4 linked regions of the Homo sapiens genome follow. The protein of the gene in region 3 interacts with the protein of the main gene of each other region in a pairwise test. Each region holds a gene or a part of one and is shown on either strand. Other genes may lie near its edges. The genes, in order: CCNL1, KATNBL1, RAD51D and LIMS1.

Region 1 (3,144 bases), on a different chromosome or scaffold from region 3:
TAACTTTATTTTTAAAAATATCCTTAGCAGTAATACATCTTCCTCTTTGTGGGTGTATTTTATTTCTTGAAACAGCAACAAATCACTTGGAGCCAAGTCTAGTGGACAATTAAAGTAGGTAAAATAAATGTAATGGAGACCTTAGTGTAATTATAAAGCGATGCAACATTTTGACTCTGTAAACTGATTTCCAAAATGTTGAAAAAAATAGTAAATGTGAGTAACTTGAAAACATTCATCTGGATAGAAATTCCGGCTTTTTCATCAAAACTTCACTTCTTTGTGATCAGCTTGTATTCTATCAACCACTCAAGTTCAGGGGCCTCACATTTTCTCCTAGCCTACGTAAAAATCGTAACATTAAATGCCTAAATTATACAGAACTGTTAAAGCTCAATAGTTACTAAGTTTTGGTTCATTCAATAGGGTACCTCATTTCAGAAATAGTACTTAAATCTGACTCAAAATTACCTTATGACACCATTCAAAAGCAAATCAGGTTTTTTGGTTTAGTGCTAAAATATAACATTTAATGTCACATTGTTGGGCGACTCCCATTTACTTTTTCCATATATACAGTGAAGACTTACAATAGCTCACAATGCAGTTAAGAATTGCATTTTAATAATCTCAAACTACCATCTAATGGAGGAAAGAATAAGTTTGTCAGAAAACCAGTACAGCCATTTTGCTATTAAAATTTTCCTTTTTAATAATTTATTTAAATAAGGTATTTGAAGCAGTTTAGAAAAAACAAGATTTGTATTTTATTTCCTTGTAAAAATCTTTACACATGCAGACAAACCAGTGTTAAGAAAGTATTCACCATCATTTAAACAAATAACCACTTAAATAGAACAGTGTCTGCAATTTTATCTGTATAAAAATAAGATACATTTTTACAGAATTCACGCTCCAGTTCTTATAGCAATAAACAATACACAACTATAATAAAGTACAATTGAACCTGACCATGGTTTTTAATTAGATACTGCTAGGGCATTTTAATGTGCAAAAAAATTAACATAGTTCTTTTCAAAAGAAACTGTCCTCAGTGTTCTAGAGACCTAGAGGGTTTCAAGAAATCAAATCCTAATCAGTTTGCGTTTAATGTTTTTGATTGAGTCCATACATCACACTGTAGATAGGCAAAACCAAGAACTGATGCAGGCTCAAAGGAAGAGAAAGTCAGCGCCTGTGCCTGCCATGTCCTGAGCGACTGCCACCATGGTGCTTGCTTTTATGGGACCTCTCAAAGGAGCGAGATCGTTCACGCCTGTCCCTATGATGTCCCCTTTCATGCCTGTGTTTCTTGGCTGCATCTGAGTGATCCCGAGACTTGCTCTGAGATCGAGAACGAGATTTTTTCCTTTTATGACCATGTCTGTTTGAACTTTTTAAATCATCTCTGGTATGCTTGGCCTTAAGGTGAGGAGAACCATGATTATGATGTCTTCGAGGGCTTTCACTGTGACTGCGGGACCTGCTTCTTGATCTCGAGCTGTATGTTCCAGATCGACTCCGCCTATTATTATAGCTTAGATAATAAAAATTTGAAGTTTAGGTTCAGTTTCTATGGGGAACAGATTATTCCGGTGGTTGCTCATAACAGGTTCAAAACAAAACTACCAGCTACATAAATGACAAACCAGAACTTTTCAAAATCTCCCCACCCCTCACTGCTGTATGCCCAAGCCTATATATAACATATTAAATCTTAAGCAAATGTTCTTATGTCTTTATTCCAAGGGGAGTAATTAGCAATTTTTATAGTGTCCTAGAGCTATGCTTTTTATTAAGTATCTCCCACATGTTCAAAAGACATTGAAGAGCCACGAAGAGCTAACAATCTAATTACAGGCCTAACTAAAGAAGATTCATTGACTGGTTAATTTGATTATTGGTTATTAATAAGGGGTTAATGAAACACATTTTCTAACTGAAATTAAAAAAAAAAAAAGAAGTTTTCACATTATGAACAATACTATGGCCCTCAAGCACTTTGTGGGTAGCTCCTACACTTCTCCAAAAAACATGGGAGAAAATATAACAGAATGCCATTAAGATACTGTATGTCCAGAACATCTCCAAACTCATTTCTCATAATTTGCCTCATACTAAAAGCCTAATTCTAACCTAACTTTGAAAATAATCTATGTTCAATTTTTAAAGAAAAAGCAATAACCTTTAAAAACTCCAAATAAGACTGCTTCCCTAAGAAAACATTTACTTACTGTCTTCTTGGAGTATGTGATCTAGAACGTGATCGTGTTCTTGACCTCGATCGACTTGCACTTCTGCTATTTCTACTTCTCTTGCTGTCTTTTCTTACACTTCAAAAAATCATGACATATTAGTTACAAACTTAGTGTGTTAAAAAGTAAACACATAAAAGATTCCTCAAGCCAGTTTTCCAGCCCAAGTATACTCACCCATTGTAAGGGCTTTTGGAAGCCTGTTGTCTATCCTCAGGTTCTTTTTTGACTGTCTTCACATTAATGGAGATTGGTGATTTCTCTTCAGCTTTTACTTCTCTTGGTGATGCTTTTAAAAGATATAATAACAACATGTTAACTACTGGATTTAACAGAGGGCCAAAAGTTGTTTCTAAATGTAACTCAAAGTACCATGCTTCCGCTTCCATGTTGGTTGACTGCCATGAGAGAACATAGCAGCAGTTTCCTAACATCATTTTTCTCTATGCAACTTTCAAATGTAAAAGCTCTCTAATAAAGACACACTTTCAGTGCCCCCAAGTCATTTTAATTCTAAATACATCTTACATGGCTTGGAGGCTGGAGAAAATCCACCCAGGGTTGAAAGGGCTGGAGTTCCATCCGGATTCAATCCCTTTGCTTTTAATTTGGCTTCTTGTAAGGCTACTTTTCTTTTTTCTACTTCTTTTTCCAGTAATTCATAGTTTGGCTGTTGGAGGAAAAAAAAGTTAGTATTTCTTCCTTAGAGTAGCTTGGACTCTTAGCATGTTGGCACAAACGAGTAAATAGAGAATACCTTTTTTCTGGTATAAAGCCTAAGTGTTTCTATGCAGATTTCCTGGATTTCCTCTTCTGTAGTACCAAAAAGAAGAAACCAATGGGGACGAGTTGGCAACGGAATCTAAACCATAAGAACAGAATGTTTTAA
Region 2 (3,972 bases), on a different chromosome or scaffold from region 3:
GACAGCCACAGAGGAGCTCTGGCCATTGCTATGGAAGACCATGGCCCCTCTCCCAAAAAAAAAAATTTCTCAGATACCTTCAAAAAAAAGAAGCAAAATGATATATCAACCAAGTTTGTTACCACTGTGTGGGATTTTACTCTATAGAATTCTTTTTTTTTTTTTTTTTTTTTTGAGATGGAATCTCGCTCTGTCGCCCAGGCTGGAGTGTGGTGGCGCAATCTCGGCTCACTACAAGCTCCACCTCCCAGGTTCACGCCATTCTCCTGCCTCAGCCTCCCGATTAGCTGGGACTACAGGCGCCCACCACCATGCCTGGCAATTTTTTTTTTTTTTTTTTTTTTTTTGTATTTTTAGTAGAGACAGGGTTTCACCATGTTAGCCAGGATGGTCTTGATCTCTTGACCTCATGATCCACCTGCCTTGGCCTCCCAAAGTGCTGGGATTACAGGCGTGAGCCACTGCGCCTGGCCTATAGAATTCTTAATGATGAAAATCTTATGAACATATCAATCTCCTAGAAAGTTTTTGTTGTTGTTTTAGGTTTTTAGAGCATACATGACGTATTACCTTGCTCTAAAGGGTTGTTGCATTCTGTATAGAAGAACTAAAAAATGATTGTTCCTTATGACTGAAATTTGCTTTCAATCAGAATTTTTTTTGTTGTTTTTGTTTTGAGACTGAATCTCGCTCTGTCGTCCAGGCTGGAGTGCAGTGGCACAAGCTCAGCTCACTGCAACCTCTGCCTCCTGGGTTCAAGTGATTCTCCTGCCTCAGCCTCCCGAGTAGCTGGGATTACACACATGCCTGGCTAATTTTTGTATTTTTAGTGGAGACGGGATTTCACCACGTTGGCCAGGCTGGTTTCGAACTCCTGACCTCAAGTGACCCACCCACCTCCCCCTCCCAAAGTAATGGGATTACAGGCGGGAGCCACCACACCCGGCCACAATCAGTTTTTTACAAAGGGAAAAGCTTTATTGTGAATATGACTTTAAGGTACCATTTATTATTGGGGACAATATTGAGTGATTAAAAGTTCAATGCGAAGTTCCTTATGATGAGACTTTCTTACAAAATTAAACCATCAATTAATTTGTAATTTTTTGAGTATAGAAATTGAAAGAAGAGGGCCGGGCAAGGTGGCTCATGCCTGTAATCCCAGTACTTTGGGAGGCCAAGGTGGGCAGATCACGAGCTCAGGAGATCGAGACCATCCCGGCCAACATGGTGAAACCCCATCTCTACTAAAACACAAAAAATTAGCCGGGCGTGGTGGTGCACACCTGTAGTCCCAGCTACTTGGGAGGCTGAGGCTGGAGAATCACTTGAACCCTGGAGGTGGAGGTTGCAGAGAGCCAAGATCACGCCACTGCACTTCAGCCTGGTGACAGAGCAAGACTCTGTCTCAAAAAAAAGAGAAAGAAATTGAAAGAGGCTATTGTCAAGCTGGGCTCAAGTGAATATAGCACTGATAGTAAACAGCACTGATAGAATTTCTGTGAATGTTAGCTATGAAAGCAGAGTTGTTTGAGCATAGGAACCAACACATTCATTTAGCACTTAGCAAATATATATTGAGCACATACTATGTGCCAGGCCCTGTGCTGAACAAATGCAGATAAAAGCACTGAACAAGGCACGTCTTTTACCCTCAAAAGGTCACAAAAGGAAACTAAGGCAAATTAAGCAACAACAAAAAAAAATGGATTGTTTATGTTTGTATTTACTGTACTGTCTAATGAAATGTTTTTGTTTTATCTTCTAAGGATGTAGATGCTTATTTATTACAGTTACATTGAGAGATTTCATCTACTAAAGAGCATTTGGTTTTTCAAAACATCCCTGAACTGTATAATTTACAAAAAAAAAAAGTCTCGTCTGAGAACTGTGAACTGTGGAAGAAATCAAAACTATTTTTTCTTTTAAAAAGCCACGTAATGAAACCACTAATGAAATCCCAGCAATCTGCTTCACATTGAAGTGGAAAAATATCCAAAAGGAGCAGCTTCAATTTCATTGAGGTGAAAGTGCACTATGAAGATTGTTCACCTTTGCTGCATTTGGGAGTTATATGGTTATTTGGTAACATTAAGAACTACTGGATTTTAATGCAATCCTGCATAAAAATATAATTTATACTATGTGAAAAAATAAGACAGGACTTACCACTAGGAACCACCAAGACCAATCATCATTAACTTTTTTAAGATTGTGTTTTATTAAAAAAAAAAAACACTTAAATGTGTGCAGCTATTTTCTTATGTTGAAAAGACTGAAAGTTTAAAACATGAAAAAAATCAATATTAAACATTTTTTGTTCACACTGAGATACTGTGTATGTAAAATGCCTTAATTATTAATAAGCCAATGTGTTATGATACCAATATCTGTTTTAAAAAACTAAAACCAACCATGCTTCTGGCATGATAAAATCATGGAATTAAATCAGGGGTTTACATTCTTGTAGAGTGTTCTTGAAACACTCTCTGCACCATTTTTAAAACTTGAGAATAGTTTTAGTATCTCTGATATTTTTTGCCAGAATCATCATGTCATGTATGAATGTGTTATCCCTATCTAAGGAAAAAGGTGAATATGTTTTTGTATGAATGTTTAACTGGAAATGTCCATGGACTTGGCTAATTTATATTTACTTTTTATTGTACATAGATTTCTAATATTTTTCATTCCTGTATCATTTAAACTTCCTTCATTTGAGTAAATTCACTAAATATTTCTATTTTTTGCTTTTTTAAATTCTGATTTTATATGAATTCTAATTCTTTTTCACTACATATGTTTTAAAGAGTTACATACAGTGATTTAGAATGGTTTACAGTTAATGCTGATCTTGTATTTTAAATTCCAACACTTTGTGTCACTACCTCCTCTAATGGTTAGTATGATATGCTAGCAGACTGTATGAGGTCTTTTTTTAAAATACCACTTTTAGTGTCAGTGAACCAAATTCTGGAATGTCTTAACAGCTCTAAATCTTACTTGTCTTGAAAATGATTGGGGTTTAATACCACTGCTGGTGGTTCACACATCATCCCATCCTTAATATGCCTGACAGGCATCTGAGCAAAGGTTTTTAGTAATTGAATTTCTCTGCAGTAGTCCTTCAAGCACTTGAATGTAAACCTTTAGCATTTATTCGTTTAATGACTACTGATACGAATCTCAAGCAGATTTCTTGCTCTTAAAAGTTATGTTTCACTGAGTTCTGGTTTTGTGTAGCTATATTTTATATAGCTAGATATTCCTCACAGTGAACATGAATTGTAATAATTGGTTATTTCCTTAAGTCTTTAGATTATAATAATTTCAGATTATTGCACGTCTGTGATTTGAGAGGTGAGTTATTTAAGAGGCCAGTTTTCAGGACATGGGAATTTGAATTGTAAACCTGTTATCTCTGTGAAACTTTTAACATGATAAAATATAACCTTTCTTTGTGCTTATTCCTGTAGTTATCACTGTCTTATGTAGCAGTTTGAACCAGTTAACTTGGTTGGAGTATGGTGCTAAAGAGGCCGTGGACAGGAGTTTGATGCTTTTGTAGGTTCATTAACTTTACATACACACAAAATGTTTTTATAGCTGTCGATTGCACCTTCCGTCAGGTATCCATCTCAGAAATTCAGGAAGATGGTATGTATAGCTTAGCATAAACCTTTCGCCTCAAATGGAAAGATTACTCAATGGGTATATGTGATACTGTAGACTTTTAATCTAACATTTAAAATAATAGATTCAAAATAAGATATCTAAAATACTGTGTAATGTTTAGTTTCAAAGTATTAAGTAATATTACATCAGATATTTTTCACATTTTTCTCTGGGTCAGATCATTGACTAAACAGTATCTTCAAAAATCAAACTTCAATAAATCAGACTTCAGAAAAATTAAGTACAAATGACATATAGTAAGAACAGGTATTATCTTGGTAACATTTATACCTAAAT
Region 3 (7,049 bases):
CTTAGTATGCAAACTAACTGAAAACCTAATTTAGGAGTATACTTTTGTAACAGATTGCTGAGGCTCAGCCAATCACATCATCAGCTTCAGTGGGTTCCAGGCAGCCAACTATTCAAACCATTTTCAAATAAGGCAAAGGCAGAGCTGTAACCAATTAGTTGTCTTTGTATCTCATTTCTGTTTTCTGACCATAAATGCTTTCAGACTATGTTGCAGCTCTGGAATTCTCTGAACCTGTCCTGGTTCTGAGGGCAGCCCAATTCTAGAATTGCAAATAAAAGTCAATTACAATCTGCAAAACTATATTTGCTTTAATTTTGTCTTTTAACACCTTGTTTTCTTAATTTTTATTATTTTATTTTATAGAGATAGGGTCTTGCTATGTTGCCCAGGCTGGTCTGGAACTCCTGGCCTCAGGCGATCCTCCTACTTTGGCTTCCCAAATTACTGGGATTACAGTCAGGAGCCACAGTTCCTGGCATGTTAACACCTTGTTCTTTAAAGGACACACAGGAGGCGATCCTTCTCCTGCCTGTAGATATTGTCACGTCTGGATTGATGCTCAAAATGGCTGCAGCCAGGCTTTCATAAGGGGAACAAGCTTGAAGACAAAACCAACATAAAAGAACAGAGCAGAAGGATGCAAAGGCTCTACGCCATTTGACAATGAGCCACTAAATTAACAAACCTCAGACTTCCTGTTATCAGAGATAATAAGTGTCCCTGCCAGGCATGGTGGCTCATGACTGTAATCCCTAGCACTTTGGGAGGTCAAGGCGGGTAGATCACCTGAGCCCAGGAGTTCAAGACCAGCCTGGGCAACGTACAGAGACCCCGTCTCTACAAAAAATACAAAACTTAGATGGGTGTGGTGGCACACACCTGTAGTCCCAGCTACTTGGGAGACTGAAGTGGGAGGATCACTTGAGCTTGGGAGGTAGAGGGTACAGTGAGCCGTGATTGTGCCACTGCACTCCAGAGCAAGACTCTGTCTTGAAACATAAAAGAAATAAATATAAATAAGTGTCCCTAGTATTTACACTTCTTTAAGCCTAGGTTTTGTTACTTGCAGCCTTAATGATACATGGACCTTTGCCTGAGTCCTTGGGAATTCAAATGCCTGATTTTTAATTAAGGCCATCAAGTGCTAGCACATAGTAGGATCTCAACATTAATTTCATCTGATGTCAGACGAAGGGCATACAATAGTCCCCTGTAAAAAGATATGTAAGAAGACACTCTGGGGACTCAATGATGTGGGTGTGAACATATATATATATTTTTTAGATGGAGTCTCACTCTGTTGCCCAGGCTAGAGTACAGTGGCACAATCTCGGCTCACTGCAACCTCCATCTCCCAGGTTCAAGCGATTCTCATGCCTCAGCCTCCCAAGTAGCTGGGATTACAGATGCGAGCCATCACACCCAGCTAATTTTTGTATTTTTAGTAGAGACAGGGTTTCACTATATAGGCCAGGCTGGTCTTGAACTCCTGACCTTGTGATCCGCCCACTTTGGCCTCCCAAAGTGCTGGGATTACAGGCGTGAGCCACTGCGCCTGGCTCATATGTGTATATATATGTGTGTATATATATGTGTGTATATATATATATGTGTGTATATATATGTATATATATGTGTGTATATGTGTGTGTGTGTGTGTGTATATATATATATATATGTATATGTATATGTATATTTTTTTCCTAAGAACTAGAGAGTGCCCTCAGGTCTCAAACCACCCCCGCAGGGGAAATTGAAAGTTGACGCTTTATGGAAGGAACCCCTGAGATAGAGCCAGTCCTTTGCTTTTTTAAAATATATTTTTAAAACATCATTCATCTATTTAATCATTACTGAGCTTCCATAATGTATAAAGAGAAAAAGTGACAAAAAGTGGGAGCCTGTAGGCAGACACGTGAACAGAAAGTACAAGTGAATAACTAATACAGGGAAGTTACTGTAAGCATCTATCTAGATCACAGCTGAGGCATAAAAAAGGATGTCAGGGTGGGTGTGCACCAGACACAGTGGGAGCTGGGCAGAGACAGACACATAAGCAAAGGGAGCAAAAGGCACTTGGACAGGAGAGCCAGCCTAGCCCAAGTCCTACCAGGGGACTGCACAGTGTGGTGTGGCCGGAACAGAGTGCAGTGGCAGCAGGCAGGCAAGACAAAGTCCTGGTCTAGGAGGAGCCAAAGGATGAAGCTGGCTGTGAGGGGCACAGCCTGCAGGAATGTCACGTGGTGGTCTCAAGTAGCAGTGAATGCAACACCTTCCCATGGCCACAGAAACTCCTTGGGTGACAGCTGTGGTGCCTTCAGCTGGAGTTACAGCCCTAGCAGGAATAGAACTGTATGGACTGAAAATTAAATAAAATGTGGGGATTTTTTTTTTCTTTTTGAAACAGAGTCTCTGTTGCCCAGGCTGGAGTGCAGTGGCATGATCGCAGGTCATTGCAACCTCTGCCTCCTGGGCTCAAGTGATCCTCCCCACTCAGCCTCTCGAGGAGCTGGGATTACAGACATGCGCCACGACGCCTGGCTAATTTTTGCATTTTTTTTTTTTTTTTGAGACGGAGTCTCACTCTGTCGCTCAGGCTGGAGTGCAGTGGCGCCATCTCAGCTCCCTGCAACCTCCGCCTCCCAGGTTCAAGCGATTCTGCCTCAGCCTCCTGAGTAGCTGGGATTACAGGAAATGGGCCACCATGCCTGGCTAATTTTTGTATTTTTAGTACAGACGGGGTTTCACCATGTTGGTCAGGCTGGTCTGGAACTCCTGACCTTAGGTGATCCACCCACCTCAGCCTCCCAAAGTGCTGGGATTACAGGCGTGAGCCACCACACCCAGCCAATGTGGGAATTAAAAAAAAAAGAGTCCTAGGAATCAAGTTGTGGGTTCCAGATCCCACCTCCATTCTGCCACTAGGACTGTCAGTCATCCTTTTTGAGCCTCAGGTACCTTCTCTGTTAAGTAACAGGATGGGCCAGATGATTTTTTTTTTCCTTGAGACAGGGTCTTGCTCTGTTACCCAGGCTGGGGTGTAGTGGTGCGATCAGGGCTCACTGCAGCCACAACCTCCAAGGTTCAAGCGATTCTCCTGCCTCAGGCTCCCAAGTAGCAGGGACCACAGGTGCACATCACAATGCCTAGCTAATTTAAAAAATTTTTTTGTAGAAACGATGTCTCATCATGTTGCCCAGGCTGATTTTAAACTGTTAAACTCCTGGGCTCAAGTGATCCTCCCGCCTCAGGCTCCCAAAGTGCTACCATTATAGGTGTGAGCCACTGTGCCTGGCCCCAGATGATCTCAAACTGCAGTCCTAGGGTCCTCAGTTAGGTATTAAGTACCTGAACTCACTACATAATGGGAACAGGGCAGAGACGGCAACCAGACTCCACCTTGAATACCAACTCCAACTGACTGGTAGTGGCCCCCTGGAGTGCTATATTGAGAAAAACTTCTAAAAACACTTTGACTTCCACAAAAAAGAGTGCTTGTGCCCGATTGGTCATGTCTGCTGTGGGCTGAAGATGCCCAAATAGTACCTTGAGTGGCAAGAATTTGCAATTTCCAGCTTCATGTATTGCATCTTACTGTGGTTGCAGGAATGTGCCAATCACCCATGGTATAAAGATACTGAAGATTAATTTCTCCTGAGGTCTTCTGTGAAAGCAAGCGCTAGGATTCCCCCAGGCTTAGGCTTACCAACCCTGTCCTGAATCCAACACCCTGGTGCCAGTTTGCCACTCCTTCCCAATCCTCCATGATTCTATCCCTGTTGCATTCATCACCTCTAAATGTCATTACTTTCTGAGTGTAACTCGGACCCTCCTTTCCTGCAGCCAAGACATAACTGATTAATTACACAACAGGCTCTCTAACCAAGAAAGATGACCTTCCTTTAAAAGATGTGGCCAGTAACCAATCCTGATCATTTCTGTACTTTTCCTTTTATTTTCCATTCCCTGGTGTCTTCGTCCCCTCCCAGCCAGGGTCATGGCTCTCAGACGGATGGCCACAGTGCTGGTGAAAGACAGAGGGATTATTTCATACACTAGGGCACTAGCTGTGGTACAGCTGGCAGGAAGAGAGGTGTAATTATATTGCATCTTGGAGCCACCAGCAATGAATTTCTGCATAAAGGACTAGATTTGCCATGTATTATTTACGTCAGCATCAATTTTCCCAGCTGGCTCTATTTACTGTGCAAATTCTCCTCTGTCTGTTTATGGGCAAGGCCATGGTTCAGCACCTCTGGTTATGCTGTACTGTGGAGGGGCCCCACAGGGCACCATGCATATTAAATGAGTGGCTGGATTCACCAGGAGCAGGTCATACCCTCCCTTTCTGTTAAATTATATCCCTGGAACTGCAGCGAGCCCACACGTTCTCACCTAGTCATGGTGATGCAGGCAGGTCTGAAACCAAATCAGCAAGAGGAAAGGAGGAATAAACTGTTCTTTGGGCCTCACTGGGGGAAACTGAAAAACAGCCTTCTAAGGGGAAATCAGGTGGCTCTAGGGCTCGGGGAATTGCCTTTTTATATTTTTAAGAGCAAAACAGAGATGAAGAAGAGTATTTCATTTATAAGCTTATTTCCACCCAGTAACTCAGAGACAGAGCTAAGGAAGAGTGGGCCCCCATCTAACAAATGGAAAGGCAGAGACAAAAGAAAAAAAAGGCAGCAGCAGCAAAGGCAAGTTAGAGGCTTTCCCGGCTTGGCCACTGCGCTAGGAGGGAGCACAGGACACAATGGTGATGCACAGGATTATCCATCCAGTCGCCAGCATGCCTCATCAGAGATGCTCCCAGCCAGGGTGAACTTGGTTTCCACCAGAAACATACACGTTAGAAATAAGGGAAGGAAACGTGGCACCAGTATGAATTTCTGGGTCCTCGCAATGCAGCATCCTCTTTCGCCTGTGGTTTATATGCTTACAGAGAGTGAGGCCAAGGAACCCAAGATGTCTCTTCTGGCCAGCCTGAGAACGTCTGTAGTCACCAGTGCCAGGTGGCAGTAAACAGCAGGCGTTACTGGGAAGAAAAGTTGGGAGGGGTCCCCAATGCTTCCCTGTTTCCCAAACAACAGCACAGGTCATGTCTGATCACCCTGTAATGTGGCACTCTGCTCTGAGGTCCCCCAGGTCCCAATGTCTACCATCTCCTGGAAACCTGTTGGCTGGAAGAAGAAGTAAGGAGTCAGTGGAGTTAAGCAACCCAAGTGGGTAGCTTCTTTAGTTGCAAGGTTTCAGCCTCTAAAGAGTTCTTCTCGAAGACATCTGTGGGTATGGAAACCACCCTCCAGGGCCCAAGATTACTGGCATCTTCCTGGGGCTGGCTCACCTGTCGGGAAGATTTGGCCAGACACGCCATGCGCCGGCCGCCTGATGCTCCTGCTCCCTCGATGGTGTCCAGGAGAATCCGAGTGCTGGGCACAAAGCTCCAGGAGCGTCCGAGGGCAGGTTTGAGCCTCCCGCTGTCCCTGTCTCGAGTTATGTGGTTGGTCACCTGCAGCAGAAACAGACTTACAGATCCATAATGCTAGTATAGAGGACATCGATTACTACCGCTTCATTTTACGGAGAGGAAAACAGAGGCCTAGCACAGAGAAATAACTTCCCCAAGGTTACAAAACCTAATGGCAGGTCTGGAACTAGAACCTGGGCCTCCTGACTTGTGCCCCGCTCTTTCCACTAAATCTCGATGCCTCAGGTTTGACCCGAACCAGAAGGCGATGGGGCACATGTCACCATGCTTTCCAGGCTGGTCTCAAACTCTTGAGCTCATGCAGTCCGCCAGCCTCAGCCTCCCAAAGTGCTGGGATTACAAGTGTGGGCCACCACGCCCAGACACTCAGCCTTTAAAAGGAAGGAAAGTCTGACACATGCTACAAGGTGGATGAACCTTCTGGACATTATGCTAAGTGAAATACTCCAGTCACAAAAAGTAAATACCATATGATTCCATGTATATGAGGTTCCTAGAGTAGTCAAAAAGCATAGATACAGAAAGTAGAATGGTGGTTGTCAGGGGCTGGGGAAGGGGAAAATGAGTTATTTTTAATGGGTACAGAGTTTCAGTTTTACAAGGTGAAGAGTTATAGAGATGGATGGTGGTGATGGTTGTACAGCGTTATGAATGTATTTAACACCACCGAACTGTATACCTTAAAGTGGTTAAGATAGTAAATTTTATGTTACATGTATTTTACCACAATAAAAGAAACTGGAAAAAATATATAGCTGCTAAAAATTACATTTCTAAAAAATCTATTTTAAAACATAGGAAATGGACTCAGATGGTATTTTTTATGTTGTTGTTTTGGTTTGTTTGTTTTTGAGATGAGGTTTTGCTCTGTTGCCCAGGCTGGAGTGCAGTGGCATGATCACAGCTCACTGCAGCCTCGATCTCCCAGGCTCAAGCAATTCTCCTGCCACCAAGGCCACCTAGTTTTTGTATTTTTTGTAGAGGTGGGGTTTTGCCATGTTGCCCAGGCTAGTCTCGAACTCCTGGGCTCAAGTGATCCACCAGCCTTGGCTTCTCAAAGTGCTGGGATTACACGCATAAACCAGCGCACCTGGCCTATTTTTTTTTATTTTTTCATGAGGTTAGTTTAGTTAGAAAGCTGGTTAAGTGTGGGCTCACACCTGTAATACCAACACTTTGGGAGGCTGAGGCGGGTGGATTGCTTGAGCCTGGAAGGTCGAGCTGCAGTGAGCTGTGATTGTGCCCCTGCACTCCAGCCTGGGAAACAGAGCGAAACCCTATCTCAAAAGAAAAAAAAAAGAAAGAAAGAAAGTTGGCTAAAAGTATAAGTAAATATGCAGAAAAAGTATTGTATGGAGATATGTAAAAATATTAATATGGTTTCTGTGGATGTGGAGATTGATGACAAATTTGAATCATATTTATTTTCTATCCTTTCTATGAGAAGCATGCAGACTTTAAAAAAACTACCTCATAAGCAGAAAAAGTTACTTCAATAGCAAAAAGATCCATTTATATGAAGCTCTGGAAAAGGCCAAACTATTGGGATGGAAAACAG
Region 4 (7,049 bases), on a different chromosome or scaffold from region 3:
ATTGTATAAGATTTGTTTTTCTTGTTTTTGTTTTTCTTGGGTGGTTATTTTTCTTTTCTGTGTCCTTCCCCAACAGCAGTTGGAATTTTCTTTTGAACACAAAGTAAATTAATGTTTATACTGTTTTTTCACCTGAGTCATGTAAAAGGTGACTCCTTTCATTTTAAAAAGTTATATTTAATTTTTGGGGGCCTTAATTAAAATTTAACATTTAACCATGTGTTTTTTTTTTGTAAACAGTCTACATGTCAACAAATGGATAAGGGTTAACAAAGGCAAATACTGACTTCATTTGTGTTTTAAACACGATTATATGAATTTTTCTTTTTTAATTAAAAAAATGACATAAAACCATTCATATAGGTCCTCTTCTCTCAACTGCTTTGAGATATAGCTTTAAATATGGGTAGATCAAGACAAGTAATGTTGGTAATCTCTTATCTTGCATAGAAAAGAAAAAATAAAGGAACTTATTTCCTTCCTAAGGTCTCAGCTAGTTTCTTAAGTCTTTTCTTCAGCTCCAATGGAAATTTCTCATAGCACTTCTTACAGACTGGCTTCATGTCAAACTCCACAAACTTATTCCTAAAGACAAAAAATTATAAAAAAAAAGAAGTTAGTGGAAACATATTCAACAAAGATATATAAATGATGTGCAGTAATTGTACTGAACTAAACGAAGGCAACTAGGTGATGATATTATATTCATGTTAGTAAAAAAACCATAATCCTAACCTCAATTCTTATTGTGATATATATATAAAAATTCAGTATAATTTTAAAAAAAAGTCCTTATAAATTGGTTCTATACATCCATCTGTGTAACACAGACTGTAGATTACATTTTATTCAGTACTAAGTAAACAGGAAATCTAATGTAAATATAATTAACTTAAGTACAGTCAATCACTTTTTTTTTTTTTTTTTTTTGGAAACAGAGCCTCGACTGTCACTCAGGCTGGAGTGCAGTGGTGATCACAGCTCCCTGCAGCCTCTAACTCCTGGACTCAAGCCATCCTCCCACCTCAGCCTCCTGAATAGCTGGGACACAAGTGCATACTACTATGCCTGGCTAACTTAAAAATTTTTTTTTGTAGAGACAGGGTCCTGTCGTATTGCCTAGGATGGTAATCACATTTTAGAATACCTTAAAGATAAATTTATCTAAAGGAAAGAATCATATTTTTATAATGTGAATGATTTCTTTATTGGAGGCAACATGATCTTACTTAGTACTTTAAATTAGGTAGCCATGAGGTTTAATTAATTTTAAATTATAAGGGGTTATTTTGGTTATCTGACAGAAAGGTTGGAAGAAAGTTTTTAATCACTCTTAACATAAATGTAACCAGATCACCTGTGGTTGCATTGTAAGCGGTAGCTATTTGAAGAACTCAACTATTCTTTTGAAAAGCTAGAGCAACACACATTATCAATTTATTTTTAAAATGGTCCTGGAGAAGACAACTTTTCAGATAGCCTCCTGATCATCTGTAATGCATTTCCAACAGGTAATTACAGGAGCTTATTACTGTTGAAATCCAGAGTGTTTAATTTTGAATTGAGTAAATATACAACTTGGTAACTTGTTCACTGTCTGTGAAATTATATTCAGGTAGCATTTGTGAAATAAATCTAGTGGTATATTGCTATCTATGACAAAAATTATAAAATCTGCTGATATTTTTACTGCATTTAAACATTATATTAAACTAGACTTTGCTTCAAGATCATTTTAAAGGACAATGTTAGTAACAAAGGAAATTCCTAAACACATATCTAAAATGAAAAATCTTCTATTTTAAAACACTACACTGGGAATTACTTTACGGCTTTTCTCCCAAGGTCATCTTAGAGCAAAAGCTATTAAAACTGCCATTTTTTTGATAAAAGAAAAAAATTATTCCTGTTTTCAGACAGACTACCTTAGCAAGCTTTCCAGTTTTAATCTTTTTTATTTTTTATTTTTTGAGACAGAGTCTCACTCTGTCGCCCAGGGTGGAATGCAGTGGCACGATCTCGGCTCACTGCAACCTCCGCCTCTCAGGTTCAAGCGATTCTCCTGTCTCAGCCTCGCGAGTATCTGGGATTACAGGCACCCGCCACCATGCCTGGCTAATTTTTTTGTATTTTTAGTAGAGACGGGGCTTCACCATGTTGCCCAGGCTGATCTCAAGTGATCTGCTGCCTTGGCATCTCAAAGTGCTGGGATCACAGGCGTGAGCCACCATGCCCGGCCTCATTGTTTTAATCTTACATTTACATTTAATTCCTCTTTATAGAAGGAAACATGTAAACTGGAACAAAATATTTTTAGAGCTCCAAACACAATGGTAACTATGAGGGAAAACTGGAACAATCATGCTGGTAATTCAAAAGAATTTCAAAGATTGAAATACTTCTCATAAAAATCAGGAATAAAAAAAGAGTTTGAAGACATTGAGGAAATGAATTCATAAACAGTAGCATATGGGTATTGTATGAATGCACATTCGAACATCACAGAAGAAGATGTCTTACGTAAATCAGATGGACTTTGCTTAGATACGAAACATGCTGAAAGATTTTTTTTTTTTTTTGAGACAGAGTCTCACTCTGTCGCCCAAGCTGGAGTGCAGTGGCAGTCATGGCTCACTGCAGCAGCCTCAGCCTCCTGAGTAGCTGGGACTATAGGTATGGGCCACCACGCCTGGCTAATTTGTTTTTTTTTTTTGACGGATGGGGTCTAGGCATGTAGTCCAGGCTGGTCTCAAAATCCTGGGCTCAGGCAATCCTTCCACTCTGCCTTCCTAAAGTGCTGGGATTACAGGCGTGAGCCACCATGCCTCGCCATGCTGAAATAATTTAATACATAACTTAGAATATATGCATTTTTAAAAATATCAAACAACACTTATAATTTATCAATTAAATGATCGTGGCAAGGAAACCAAAAACCAGGATTTTAAAAGCTACAGTTAATCAGACAAAAATCCTTTAAAATGTTTTCCAGGGTCTATTAAGAGATTAGAATTCTTCCCTTTAAATCCATTAAAAAAAAAAGAAAGAAATGTATACTATATGGTGTTTAAAAAATGAGGTGAGTGAGTCTACAGAGTAAGTGAAATACATGACCACAAAACTGTATTAAGTATGGAGTGTATTCATTTAATTTTTGTAATTTTAGCAGTTATGCAAAAGGACCAGTTCTACATAGGACAAATACTTGTATTTCAATCTCTGATGACTACAAATACATGCCCAAAAGTTGCAGGGGGGGAAGAAAGCAAAAGACAGAAACAGAACAAAAACATATTCCAAAGGACTAACCAAAGGAGAAAGCAGTGAAAATGATGACACAGGGATAGAAAAGTTTACAAACAGACTGGCTTTTTCTTTTTCTGCTTGTCCTTATCCTTTGCTTCTCTCTCCCGTTTGGCAAGTCGCCTCTTAAATTCTTCTGGCATTTTCTCATAACAGTGTTTGCAGACTGGCTTTAGGTCAATTTCAACAAACTTATCCCTTTGAGTAGGACAAAGAAGGAATAGAAGAAAGAACAGGGAACAGTTAAAGGAAGAACCTTTACTTTCAGAAGGCCTGAACAGAAAGAGGAAATAAGAAATCAAATAATTCTCTTTTTCTAAATTCTAGGATTTTTTTTAAGTGTCTCCCCAAAGTTTTCAGTCTTAGGATTCACACTGGACAAAACCGTACACTTACTTGAGTGTTAATTTAGTGTTGCAGGTAGAACAGGCAAAGCAGTTCACGCACCAGGCCTTATTAAGAGCAGAGACCACTGGAGAAAGAGGAAAGAGATCTGGTCACATGGAAATACATCAGTATGGGGAGCAGGGCAGCTTAGAATTTCAACTCCAAAACAGAACTACGACTGTGTCTGTGGCACTTGGTGGAGGTTCTCAAGAACCTTTTTTTTTTTTTTTTTTTTTTTTAAATGAGACAGGGTCTTGCTCTATAGCCCAGGCTGGAGTACAGTGGCACAATCTTGGCTCACTGTAACCCCAACCTCCCAGGCTCAAGTGATCCTCCCACCTCAGCCTCCTGAGTAGCTGGGACTACAGGTGCATGCCACTACACCTGGCTAATTTTTTTTTTTTTTTTTTTTTTGAGACGGAATCTCGCTCTGTTGCCAGGCTGGAGTGCAGTGGCGCAATCACGGCTCACTGCAACCTCCGCCTCCTGGGTTCAAGCGATTCTCCTGCCTCATTTTCCCAAGTAGCTGGGACTACAGGTGCGTGCCACCATGCCCAGCTAATTTTTGTATTTAATAGAGACGGGATTTCACCATGTTGGCCAAGATGGTCTCAATCTCTTGACCTTGTGATCCGCCCGTCTTGGCCTCCCAGAGTGCTGGGATTACAAGCGTGAGCCACTGCGCCCGGCCTATACCTGTCTAATTTTTGTATTTTTTATAGAGACACGGTCTTGCCATGTTTCCCAGGACGGTCTTGAACTCCTGGGCTCAAGCAATCTACCTGCCTCGGTCTCCCAAAATGCTGAGATTATAGGCATGAGCCACCATGCCCAGCCAAGAACCTCTTTCCTGAGAGCTTCTTTTCTTTTGTTTTTCAGACAGGGTCTCGCTCTGTTGTCCAGGCTGTATTGCAGTGGTGCGATCACAGCTCGAACTCCTGGGCTCAAGCAATCTTCTCCTCTCGTTCTCCTGTGTAGCTGGGACCATAGGTGTGTGCTACCACACCTGGCTAATTTTTTATTTTGTAGAGATGGAGGTCTTGCTCTGTTGCCCAGGCTGGTATCGAACTCCTGGCCTCAAGAAATTCTCCTGTCTCGGCCTCCTTAAGTGCTGGGATTACAGGTATAAGCCACCACACCCGGCCCTCAACCTTTATGTATACAGTTGTTGCTCAGTATGTGCAGGATACTGTTTCTAGGATGCTGTGAGGATACCAAAATCTCAGACGCTCAAGTCCCTGATATAAAATGCATATAACCTATGTACATTGTCTTGTATACATTTATTTATTTTTTTTGAGACGAAGTTTTTGCTCTTGTTGCCCAGGCTGGAGTGCAATGGTGTGATCTTGGCTCACAGCAACCTCTGCCTCCCGGGTTCAGGTGATTCTCCTGTCTCAGCCTCCCGAGTAGCTGGGATCATAGGCATGCACCACCACACCCAGCTAAGTTTTTGTATTTTTAGTAGAGATGGGGTTTCACCATGTTGGCCAGACTGCTCTTGAACTCTTGACCTCAGTTGATCTGCCCGCCTTGGCCTCCCAAAGTGTTGGGATCACAGGCGTGAGCCACTGAGCCTGGTCCTATCTCGTATACTTTAGATCATCTCTAGGTTAATTATAATGCCTAGTACAATGTAAATGATATGTAAATAGTCATTATACTGTACTATTTGTACTGTTATATTGTTATTTTTCTCTAAATATTTTTGATCCATAGTTGGTTGAATCCACGGATGTTTGGATCCAGCCCCTGGATACGGAGGGCTGACTTTAATCTTCCCCCATCCTTAAGTATCCTGTGAAGTTATAAATGATGTGTGCCATGTCTTACACCAGCAACTGTGCCCCCTTGGCCTGGGCACATGTGGCAACTGTCCATGCACCATGTTGTTTAGGTGAGCTTGCTGTTTCTGTCCCTACTGCTGTTGGCCCAACATGGAAATATGAACTAGGTAAATAATTTTCAAAAATCCAGACATTAACTTATTTGCCCCTGTAGGAGTCTTTTTTCCAGAGCTGATGATAAGAAGACAGTTTCCTTTGCAGCTTCTTTCACCTGGCATCTATTTCACAGAGGAGGGAGGTAAGTTTTATTTTCAATGGCACTAAAGATTGTTTTCCTGGATTGTTTTCACAAACTGCACATGAACAGTGTTTCAAAAGTATTTCCTGAATTAGGTGATGTCTGCAGGGAGCCATGAATCATGCTGAAAACAGGATTGTTCAAAACTTTGCCAGGAAGTCTCTGGCAGAAGTGTGTTAGCGAGTCTTAGCAAACACAGCTGCTTCCTTTCTGTTCCAATCAATCAGCCCAGCCTAATTACCACAGTACAAGGGTGGTAAGTCCTAGATATGCTTGCTGATAACTGCCAGCTTTTAGCATGTGCAGGTTAAAGTGCCTCTTCCTAACTACGATAGCAGATTAAACTGTTCCTAATAAACGTTGTTCTAGAGCTTCCTGAAACTGGACACAAACAGGTCTTAGGGTCCACCAGGGACAGTTCCCATGATTGCTGGCATACAACACTGCAGCAGTGGCCGAAAGTAGTGTCATAAATCAGTAACAAATCCAACTCTTTGATATTATCATCTTACTGCTACAGATTACTTGGAAAATACGCCAAAGATAGAGAAAAAGTAACTGATAACGATCACATTTCAAACCATACAATCACCAACCTGAATTTCCACATTACCCAAGTGTTTTTGTGTCAAAGTGGCACCAATCTAAAACTCACACAGATACTTACCATCACCTTCTATAACACGATTGCAGTGGAAGCAAACATCACCAAATAGCTGAAAATAAAAAAAGGTGGTCAAAGTTCAAGATGTGTTAGAATTTTTAGAACACTGAACATTTAAAAATAGCTGGCTATCTAAATTGAGGATTTATCACTACTAGAGAAATTTAGTAAAAGTTCTTTGACAAGTTTTTACTTCTTACAATGAAAGTAATTCACTCTCATCAATTAAAAGAAAAACTTTCCAGATGACAGTTTGAACACCCAAATAAGTGATGCAAAATATAGAAATCTGTGAGTCCATATGGATAAGAAATAGATAAATGAATAAACCTATAGACGGGAGAGGAGGTGGGTTCTTGCTCAGGCAGAGCGCTGAGGACCAGACTATGGGTGGAGGGCATGGGGCTGGAGAAGTGTCGTTTGCAGCTGGCGCAGAGACAAGAATCATCAAGGGGTGCTGAATCTAGGGCAGGTTGATGAGGAACAGGACATTTCCATGGTCATAAAATGATTGCCCACAGATTGCTTCTTTCTTACAGAGGAGGGAAGGAAATTGTAATTCACAGTGATGTTATCAGCCAGCACCATGCCTGGGAGATCACCAGGGCAG

What was found.
Region 1: the proteins of RAD51D (region 3) and CCNL1 interact in binary tests that used the Homo sapiens proteins (3 or more experiments, as listed by UniProt).
Region 2: the proteins of RAD51D (region 3) and KATNBL1 interact in binary tests that used the Homo sapiens proteins (3 or more experiments, as listed by UniProt).
Region 4: the proteins of RAD51D (region 3) and LIMS1 interact in binary tests that used the Homo sapiens proteins (3 or more experiments, as listed by UniProt).

The regions. Positions count from the first base shown.
Region 1 is NC_000003.12:157,147,053-157,150,196, forward strand, and holds the end of CCNL1 (cyclin-L1), read right to left. Parts: intron 3,118-3,144; coding exon 3,013-3,117; intron 2,926-3,012; coding exon 2,784-2,925; intron 2,545-2,783; coding exon 2,433-2,544; intron 2,334-2,432; coding exon 2,235-2,333; intron 1,538-2,234; coding exon 1,189-1,537; 3' UTR 501-1,188; downstream 1-500. UniProt on the Homo sapiens protein: Involved in pre-mRNA splicing. Functions in association with cyclin-dependent kinases (CDKs). Inhibited by the CDK-specific inhibitor CDKN1A/p21. May play a role in the regulation of RNA polymerase II (pol II).
Region 2 is NC_000015.10:34,140,169-34,144,140, reverse strand, and holds the end of KATNBL1 (KATNB1-like protein 1), read left to right. Parts: intron 1-1,769; coding exon 1,770-1,802; 3' UTR 1,803-3,467; downstream 3,468-3,972.
Region 3 is NC_000017.11:35,095,854-35,102,902, forward strand, and holds part of RAD51D (DNA repair protein RAD51 homolog 4), read right to left. Parts: intron 5,513-7,049; coding exon 5,348-5,512; intron 5,184-5,347; coding exon 5,100-5,183; 3' UTR 1-5,099. UniProt on the Homo sapiens protein: Involved in the homologous recombination repair (HRR) pathway of double-stranded DNA breaks arising during DNA replication or induced by DNA-damaging agents. Bind to single-stranded DNA (ssDNA) and has DNA-dependent ATPase activity.
Region 4 is NC_000002.12:108,677,421-108,684,469, reverse strand, and holds part of LIMS1 (LIM and senescent cell antigen-like-containing domain protein 1), read right to left. Parts: exon of another isoform or gene 6,979-7,049; intron 6,492-6,978; coding exon 6,443-6,491; intron 6,032-6,442; exon of another isoform or gene 5,869-6,031; intron 3,776-5,868; coding exon 3,700-3,775; intron 3,502-3,699; coding exon of another isoform or gene 3,354-3,501; exon of another isoform or gene 3,310-3,353; intron 586-3,309; coding exon 471-585; 3' UTR 1-470. UniProt on the Homo sapiens protein: Within the IPP (ILK-PINCH-PARVIN) complex, binds to F-actin, promoting F-actin bundling, a process required to generate force for actin cytoskeleton reorganization and subsequent dynamic cell adhesion events such as cell spreading and migration.